Linked DNA regions of Homo sapiens: regions 1 and 2 are each linked to region 3. Evidence: fine-mapped expression QTL. A gene starts in region 3. Each other region holds a variant in brackets. All regions are shown on one strand. Distances are from middle to middle. Region 1 overlaps IFI16 (interferon gamma inducible protein 16). Region 2 has its middle 9.1 kb from the start of AIM2. Region 3 holds the start of IFI16 (interferon gamma inducible protein 16).

Region 1 (2,769 bases), 40 kb after region 3:
GGTGGTCAGAGACTGTTCTAATCAAGAAGCTGTTCTCCATGTGAGCTCACTACAAGCAGTTCTTTTGTGTACCTCTCTATCAACAATTGCCACTTAAAAAATTAGGTTACTGAATGGCAAAACTGCTAAAATAATGTGCCACATTGGCCAAATAGGGTGAATATTTTTTGGACTTCCATTAGTTTAATTAAAGGTAGTCAAGGTATGTGATTTTAGAGATATTCTCCAGTCTTACTTGAAAAATGTATAAAAATATAGCTAATGGGAATGCTTTAGGTGGAATATTAAATTGTTCTGAATACAGCTAAAAACCCTGAAAGATTCTGATAGCCTGATCCACACTGTAGTGATCATAGAACCTTCCCTGAGGAATTGTGAATTTGAGAGAATCTTCCTGTTATGGCTACGATCAGAGATCCCTAAAGGATGGAGATCTGGGTTTCTTGTATGCTGAAGAGCACTTGAGAGAGACTGGTTTGTGTATCTAATTGATGAGAAAGGCCTAGTTAATAAATGTCCATAAATGTAGCCAACTTTATTGCAAGCCATGCTGCCCCCAAAATAGCCCTAAGAGTTGTACCTGACCAAATAACTCAGTCCAGTTTTACAGGATGTGAAGACTGAGTATTCCATCCCCAGACAATGCAATTTCAGTTATCTGAGTTTTTAATCCTGACTGGGATGAGAGAAGGCTGAGTGATAGAAGTATCTGAATATGTGGTATTATTCCTCCTGCAACTCAGGGAAAAACAGAGAAACTGGCAAAGTGAACATCCTATTTAAAAAAGAAAAAAGGAAAAGATGTGTTTCATCTGATCTTGAAAAACATTAACTAGAAAAAAAGAACAAACATCTATTTTCCTTTAGAAAAGTGAAGACACAATCTCCAAAATGAATGACTTCATGAGGATGCAGATACTGAAGGAAGGGAGTCATTTTCCAGGACCGTTCATGACCAGCATAGGCCCAGCTGAGAGCCATCCCCACACTCCTCAGATGCCTCCATCAACACCAAGCAGCAGTTTCTTAACCACGGTACAAGTTCCCTCTTCCCAATACATTCCCCTCGCTACTATATAATGACAAGGATTAACACAACCGTGAAAGCACCTCACCAATCCCCTACTACATACAATGCTTTAATTTAACCAAATCAGTCATTTATTTATCAAGTGTGTATTTTGAGGTCCTATCCAAAATTAAAATTCTGTTTTTATCATCTCTATTCCATAACAGGTATAATTAGATGTTTGTTTAATTTTATTTTTCTTTTGGCTTACGTTTTTGTTTTTCCCTCAATACATCATGAAAATCATACCTTAAAGTAGAACAAGGTGGGAAAAAACAGAGCCACCCATAACACTATCACTGATTTTTCCCCTTTCATTTATTATAACTCAAACAATATGTTTAAAAATTTAGGAAAGGAAGGTACATAAGCAAAAATAACTTTTAACTGTCAGAAATCTCTATCTAATGCCACATTTCAGTACATGGTCTTTCTGATTTTATACCTTTCAGTATGTATATACAAAGAGTCTTATTTTCTCTCAGAGTAAATCACATTCACATATTTTTCCATAACCCATGTTTTTTATTAATATATCGTGAACTGCCATGCAATCATACAATATAGATTTAAATTATTTTATTGTACTAGAAAAATTGCACAGTTATTCCATACATTATAAAAATGATC[AT/A]TTTTTATTTGGCTTTATGTTGTTTCCAGTATTCTGTGTATTTACAACGAACATAATAAGATCACATGTCTCTCAGATCTTCTTTCATTGCCCTCAGAGTAGCTTTATAATTATTTCCTTAGGTTCTGTGCACCTTGTGTCAGGGTACTGATGTCATGGCTATTGTGAGGTGATTTGATACTGATTAACTTCATTGGGAATGGGTTTCCTAATGTTATGGAAAATTGGCCACATTGATGAGTTCATTAGAGTTAAGTCCATCAGAGTTAAAGCCATCACTCACAGGTGGCCAATATCATCTTCCAGGTCAGATCACATTGCTGGTCTGTGGAGGCAGCCGTCCTGCCTCCATGTTCTGGTCTCTAAGACTCCCTTGATCCCTTCTTGCCTCCATACCTCCTCTTCCAGATCAGCAGCCCCTCCAAGTCAAAGTGCTCTCCTACAACTCAGAAACAGTGCAGGCCACTGTGGAGACAGGAGGTTAAAGAAAAGTCCCCTCCCGCCTAATTTTTCACGTCCATGACTCTTTTTAGTTCCTGCCATTATTCAGATTGGAGAGCCTCTAACCTGGGCCCCTTCAGATTAGGAAAGTTTGTGGAGTCTTCCAGTGGCTGCCTTAATGATGTTTTTGCAACATAGTGCTGCTTCATTAGAAAGGGCTTTGCAATTTGGTTCTTTAAAATGCCCCTATCTACTAGAATGAGTTCCAACTGAAATCTCATGAAATCTAAGGTTTGTGGTTGAGACTATTCCTTACTCTGAATGCTAGTAATATGATTTTTTTCTCTATTTTTATTTTATTTGGTCACTGTCATATTAGGCAGGAGGGAACTTTTCTTTAACCTCCTCTCTCCACAGTGGCCTGCACTATTTCTGAGTTGTAGGAGAGCACTTTGAATTGGAGGGGCTGCTGATCTGGAAGAGGAAGTATGGAGGCAAGAAGGGATCAAGGGAGTCCTAGAGACCAGAACATGGAGGCAGGACAGCTGCCTCCACGGACCAGCAGTGCTCAATATGACCTGACCTGGGTAGAAAGGAGTAAAACTGAGATTCTTCTAAAATCTCATCT
Region 2 (2,769 bases), 76 kb after region 3:
TTTGGGAGGCCAAGGCGGGGGAATCGCTTGAAGCCAGGAGTTCAAGTCCAGCCTGAGCAAAAAACGGCGACCTTATCTCTCCAAAGAATTTTAAAAATTAGCAGGGCTTGGTGACACATGCCTGTAGTCCCAATTACTTGGGAGGTTGAGGCAGGAGGATCACTTGATTGTCTAGGAGTTTGAGGCTGCAGTGAGTGGTGATCAAACCACTGCACTCCAGCCTGAGTGACAGAGCAAAACCCTGTCTGAAATACACACACACACACACACACACACACACACACACACATACAGACACACACACACATCCCTCAGAGATCACTGGAGAGTCTGAAGGACTGAAGGAACAAGGTCAAGACTAAACTCACAGAAAAAACAAAAATGTGTTTCCCACACCTTCTCCCTCCACCCACATACACACACACCAAACCAGGCAACAAAACTATTCTGGATAAGTTCACTGTTTCTGCTCCCTAAACATATAATGCCAAGACCTGACTACACTGCAATTGCTAAATCTACAGAACAAATGCCACTTCCGTATGTACTTCGCAATTGCTGCTATTGCCTAAAACCCAGATGTCTGAAGCCAGCCGCATCAGCAAGATGGAAACTCCATGGAGAGCCAGGTTCTCATGTTGATGACTTCTAAATCAAGCCTCCCTTGGAAGCATCTGACAGGGCAAGCCTAGGTCACCTGTGTCCATCTGGGCTGCAAGAAAAAAAAAATGAGAATCTGACTCCTGTCTTCTGAGTTGGGGACGTGAGAATTATTACATGTGAATTATTTAAAAGGTTCTGGGAAGGTACAAATGTGACACATGGCCACTAAAAACTCATTCAAGAGAGATAAGGATTCCAGAATTATTCCCAGATTTCTGGCTCAGGAAAGTAGGTGAATGATAGTGTCATTACAGAGACAGGGAGTACCCAAGGAGGAGTAGGTCAAAGTAAGTGAGGAAAATGTGGGTTTAGCGGTGGAGGTGTTGCGTTTGAGGTGCCCAAGAGATATGTAAATGGAGATGTTTAATTGAATATATAAGCCTGGAGCTTAGACGAAAGGTCAGAACTCCAGACAGTAACGTGGGCAGCATCCAAATACAGATGGCAGCTGATGCTGCAGAACAGGATGAGACTGTCAGGAGAGGCCATCATGAAGGAGAAGGGGGCAGGCCTCCAAGCCACGTAGAGCTCAGACAGCAAGTGGTTGGGCTAAAGAGGAAGAGTCAACAAGGAAGACTTACAAAGAAAGGTCAGAGCAGTAGAGAAAAGAAGCCAGACCTGGTGGAGTGCTGGAAGGCAAGGCAAAGAGTATTTCAAGGAAGATGGCACTCAGTGA[C/T]GTAGTGTGTACTTGAGTATCGCTAAGAGAGTAGATCTTAAATGTTCTAACACACACACACTATGTGAGGTGGCAGACATGTTTATTAACTTTATCATTTCATAATGTACACAAATATCAAAACATCACGTTGTATACTGTAAATATACAATTTTTATTTGTTGATTATACCTCAATAAAGCTGGTGGTGGAGTGTGAGGGGAAAGAAGGATAGGGCTCAGATCTAGCAAATCCTGTTTCAGATCTAGGAAACATCCAACAGATAATTATTTGCTTCCACCAGATTTTACCCATCATTCTATGATGTTTAATTTGGTTTGCTCTACTTATATTTGATATCAATGTACTGAAACAGGGAGCAGGTAAAAAGGCAACAAGGGTGAGGCAAAAATATTAATAAAAGCCAGAGAACAGATCCTAAAGCTCTTCCAGCTTCTGAACCACCTATCTTTGTCCTCGTTGTCAGTGTCTCTCCTCTTTCCACCTCATAAACATGGATGCTTTGTTTGTGACATGAGGCTGCCTCTGTTTTCCTGTTGGCCAGCTCATCAGAGCGCTCTGGGGCCAGGCCCTTCCTGGCCTCCCTCTGCCCACATACACTAGGCTCCAGGTGAATCTGCACATACCTCGCCCTCTACTTCTCCTCCCCCATCTGGCTAATTCTTACTCACCCCCAGGTCCTTCTTTATATCTCACTTTCTCCAAAATTGTTTTCAAATCCTGCAAGCCCAAGTCTGAGCTAAGTGCTCCTGTTGTTTATTTTCCCATCATCTCCAGGACTTTCCATCACAGCAATAAAGTGGAAAGAAGTAAACTCACAGGCTTGGGCACTACACCCGTGCAAGTTAAAATCCCTGCTCCACCAACCTGTGTGGCCTTGAGTAAGTCTCTTAGTCTATTGAAGGCTGTCAGTCCCTAATCCTAGAAGGTGTTGTGAAAATTAAGAGTTTACATGTTTAAAACACTAAGCAAAGTAACTGAAAGAAAGAACTCAGTAAACTCTATCCATTATTATTATGACTATCAATATATTGTTTTATGAGGGCTAATGTCTTGTCTGCCTTTTTCAGTGAAGTGTAAACTCCTTAGGGGCAGAAACTGAATCTGTATAAAATAATTGCAAACTCAAATCACCAAGACTCACCACCTTAAAACTCCAAGTGTACATTTGAAACTTTGTGCTACACATTTTTATTTAAATACATAATGAAAAATTCAACCTCTACATATCCTAAATCATTGATTGTCTTAGGACTCTAAGTACTTTCTCATTCTTACTTCCCTTTTACTGTTAATGGAACCACAACTCTCCCACTGACCTAGGCTCCCAACCCAACAGTCTCTACTTCTTCGCTTTTCCTTGACTCCTACACTACTCAATGTCCTTTATATTGACAATACTAGTGATAGGGCTGAGTCAGGGTGATGGT
Region 3 (2,769 bases):
TTTGCTTCATCTATGAAAATTTCATCTTTGTGGTATGAATTATGGAGCATTGTCCTGAGTTGCCCTTATAGGTGACCGCAGTTTGTGTGTTGTATGCTGGAGTCCCAATTGAGGACATTACTGCATATAAAATGATTATAAGTAAAAGGCAGAAAATGTTCTGAAGGGTCATAACTTCCAAGGGTTCTCTACCCTTTGACCTCTGGATTGGGGTTCCCAGTGACTGCCTTAATATCCTTCTCTACCTACTGCCTTAAGGCCAACTCAATGTATCCACGTAAAGAGTACCCTAAAGCCAGTAAAAGATTATCACGAACACCCAGAGATGTTTATGGCCATCATTCCAGATCCTCTTTGCTTTTTCTTGACTTACTCCTTTTTTGATAAAGTTATTCATATGGTTTCAAATCCAGAATTCAGCTATTCACTTCATGGCCCTAGTTTGGATTAAAACAATCAGCTTTCTTTTGCTCTGTAGATGGCCTTGGACAGTACATATTAACAGTCTATGGGGCCCCTTTTCCACTCATGACCACATCCTGCTTGCAGATCTGCTGCTGGGTTAACACCACATCATCTGCTAGTTGATGCCATTTATTTGACATCCTGGGGTTACAGCACGCTAAAGGGCACCCACTGTCCTTAACAGAGAAAAATACACTGCTGAGCAGAGGATTAAACAGACTCCTCACACTACCGGAAGTTCAGTGCATTTTCCAGGATTTTCAAGTCTTCGATGCTGTCATGTTGAGAGTCCACTATCCACGTTTGTTTATCCAGGAATAATGCAGAAAATCTGAGCATTCGTGAATCTAATCATTGAGGTAAAGTAACCTAGTCATGGTCAAGAGGACAGCTAGTGTTAAACTCCTTCATATAAATTTAAGGAAGGATTTACATATTCATAATGACTTTCTGATCTGGAAAGCCCAGGCTTGTCAGTTATTAATAATTGGATGAATACTTCAGGTAGTATTTAAACAAATAGCGATTTCATAGCAGACATTTCCCCAACCAGGAGATGCAGTAAAGTATTGGTAGCAATAGATGCTCCTACCAAGATCTCCTCCTGCCACTGCCACTCTGTGCACAGGAAAGGAGGGGAGAAGAAGCCATGTTGCTTCTCTTATATTTGAGCATCATTTAAGGGAATATAAGTCTCTAATGACTCACATGTAAGTCTGCTGGGTAAGAAAGTTCTAATGTTGGAACTCCTTTCAGCTATCGAATTTTGTAAGAAAAAAAACTTATTTGTGTTTATATACATTTATGAGATACAAGTGTAATTTCGTTACATGGATATATGCCATATTGGTGAAGTCAGAGATTTCAGTGTGCACATCACCCGAAAAATGTTAACTGTACCCATTAAAGTAATTTCTCATCCCCCATTTCCCCTCACCACATGCTCCAGCCCTTGCCAGGAAACTGTTCATTTTCTCTGACTAACAGAAACGAAAGCTAAAAACACTGGTGGGAGGAGTCTCCACATTGTTTCCTACTCCATTTTCTCTGGGGCAATAGCAGAATAGGAGCAAGCCAGCACTAGTCAGCTAACTAAGTGACTCAACCAAGGCCTTTTTTCCTTGTTATCTTTGCAGATACTTCATTTTCTTAGCGTTTCTGGAGATTACAACATCCTGCGGTTCCGTTTCTGGGAACTTTACTGATTTATCTCCCCCCTCACACAAATAAGCATTGATTCCTGCATTTCTGAAGATCTCAAGATCTGGACTACTGTTGAAAAAATTTCCAGTGAGGTGAGTACTGTTCCTGATTTTGTAAATATGATCTTGTTCCTTCCTTGAAGTCCCCAGAATCACAAGGGGACAATCAGTATTGGTTATTCAGGGTCATGGGATGATGGGAGTAGGGCTGAGTATTCAGAAAAGTGAAAACTGAGTTGCTTGATATGAATCCTTCATTTACTTAGGAAGATAACAGGCATCTTCTATTCCACCACAACTGAGGACTGAACAAGAGAAAATGCATTTTGACCGTTGCAGATTTTAAAATTAATTATCCGAGTGTATACTGGCATAAGTTGGTACTTAGAAGAGGGCTTCTGTTATTTTGGCTGGAAGAAGTGTTGGAAACTCGGTAGCTGTGGTGGGTTCTCAAGATAGTGACATGAAAAAAGTATCATGAAAGAATATTAAGTAAAAAACATATCTGAGCATAGAGATGTATTATATGACATCATCCCAATTTTACAAAACATAAGAACAAATGTACACAGAGTAGAAAATTTTTTTCAGTTTCACAAACACAGTTACTCAAGCACATGGTGTCTTAATATTTTCATAAGTATATTGATCCTTTACTTTAGCTCCATTCTGCACCGGGTGCTAGCGGCAGAATTTCAATCATTTTGGAATTACTCTCTGCCCTCCTGAAAGTTAATGATTTTTTTTTTCCTTGTGGCAAGGTATAGGGGAGTGGAGGGGAAGGCAGTTAGGAAAAGGTTACTATTGTTTACTTTTCAAATTTTTAAAAGATGTTTTCTATAGCCTGGTACAATATTTCATGTGTGCTTAAATGGAATGTGAGATTCTTAAATGTTGTTTTCAGAATTTTATTAGATAAATGTTGTTAATTACGTTGTTCAAATTTATTATATCATTACAGATTTTTTCACCTTGTTCATTTAGTAATTGAAGCATAAACTGAAATCTCCTATTATAAAGTTTGCTTTTTTGGCCGGGCACAGAGGTTCATGCCTGTAATCCCAGTACTTTGGGGGAGACCAAGGCGAGCGGATCACTTGAC

The links. PIP is the estimated chance that this variant, and not a neighbour inherited with it, causes the effect. A credible set is the group of variants that fine-mapping cannot tell apart.
Region 1: its variant is the best candidate, but not a certain one, in a credible set for the expression of IFI16 in whole blood (INTERVAL, PIP 0.72).
Region 2: its variant is the best candidate, but not a certain one, in a credible set for the expression of IFI16 in whole blood (INTERVAL, PIP 0.88).

Annotation. Positions count from the first base shown.
Region 1 is chr1:159,048,565-159,051,333 of GRCh38, forward strand. It overlaps IFI16 (interferon gamma inducible protein 16), which reads left to right. Exons shown (of 12, transcript NM_001376587.1): 9 at 868-1,035. Among named protein-coding and RNA genes, the nearest start is that of AIM2, 27 kb to the right of the region's middle. The variant AT/A (reference allele first, on the strand shown) is at 1,700.
Region 2 is chr1:159,084,527-159,087,295 of GRCh38, forward strand. It overlaps a transcript of AIM2 not described here. Among named protein-coding and RNA genes, the nearest start is that of AIM2, 9.1 kb to the left of the region's middle. The variant C/T (reference allele first, on the strand shown) is at 1,340.
Region 3 is chr1:159,008,402-159,011,170 of GRCh38, forward strand. IFI16 (interferon gamma inducible protein 16) reads left to right here and starts at 1,506. Exons shown (of 12, transcript NM_001376587.1): 1 at 1,506-1,760. RefSeq lists an enhancer at 1,363-1,442.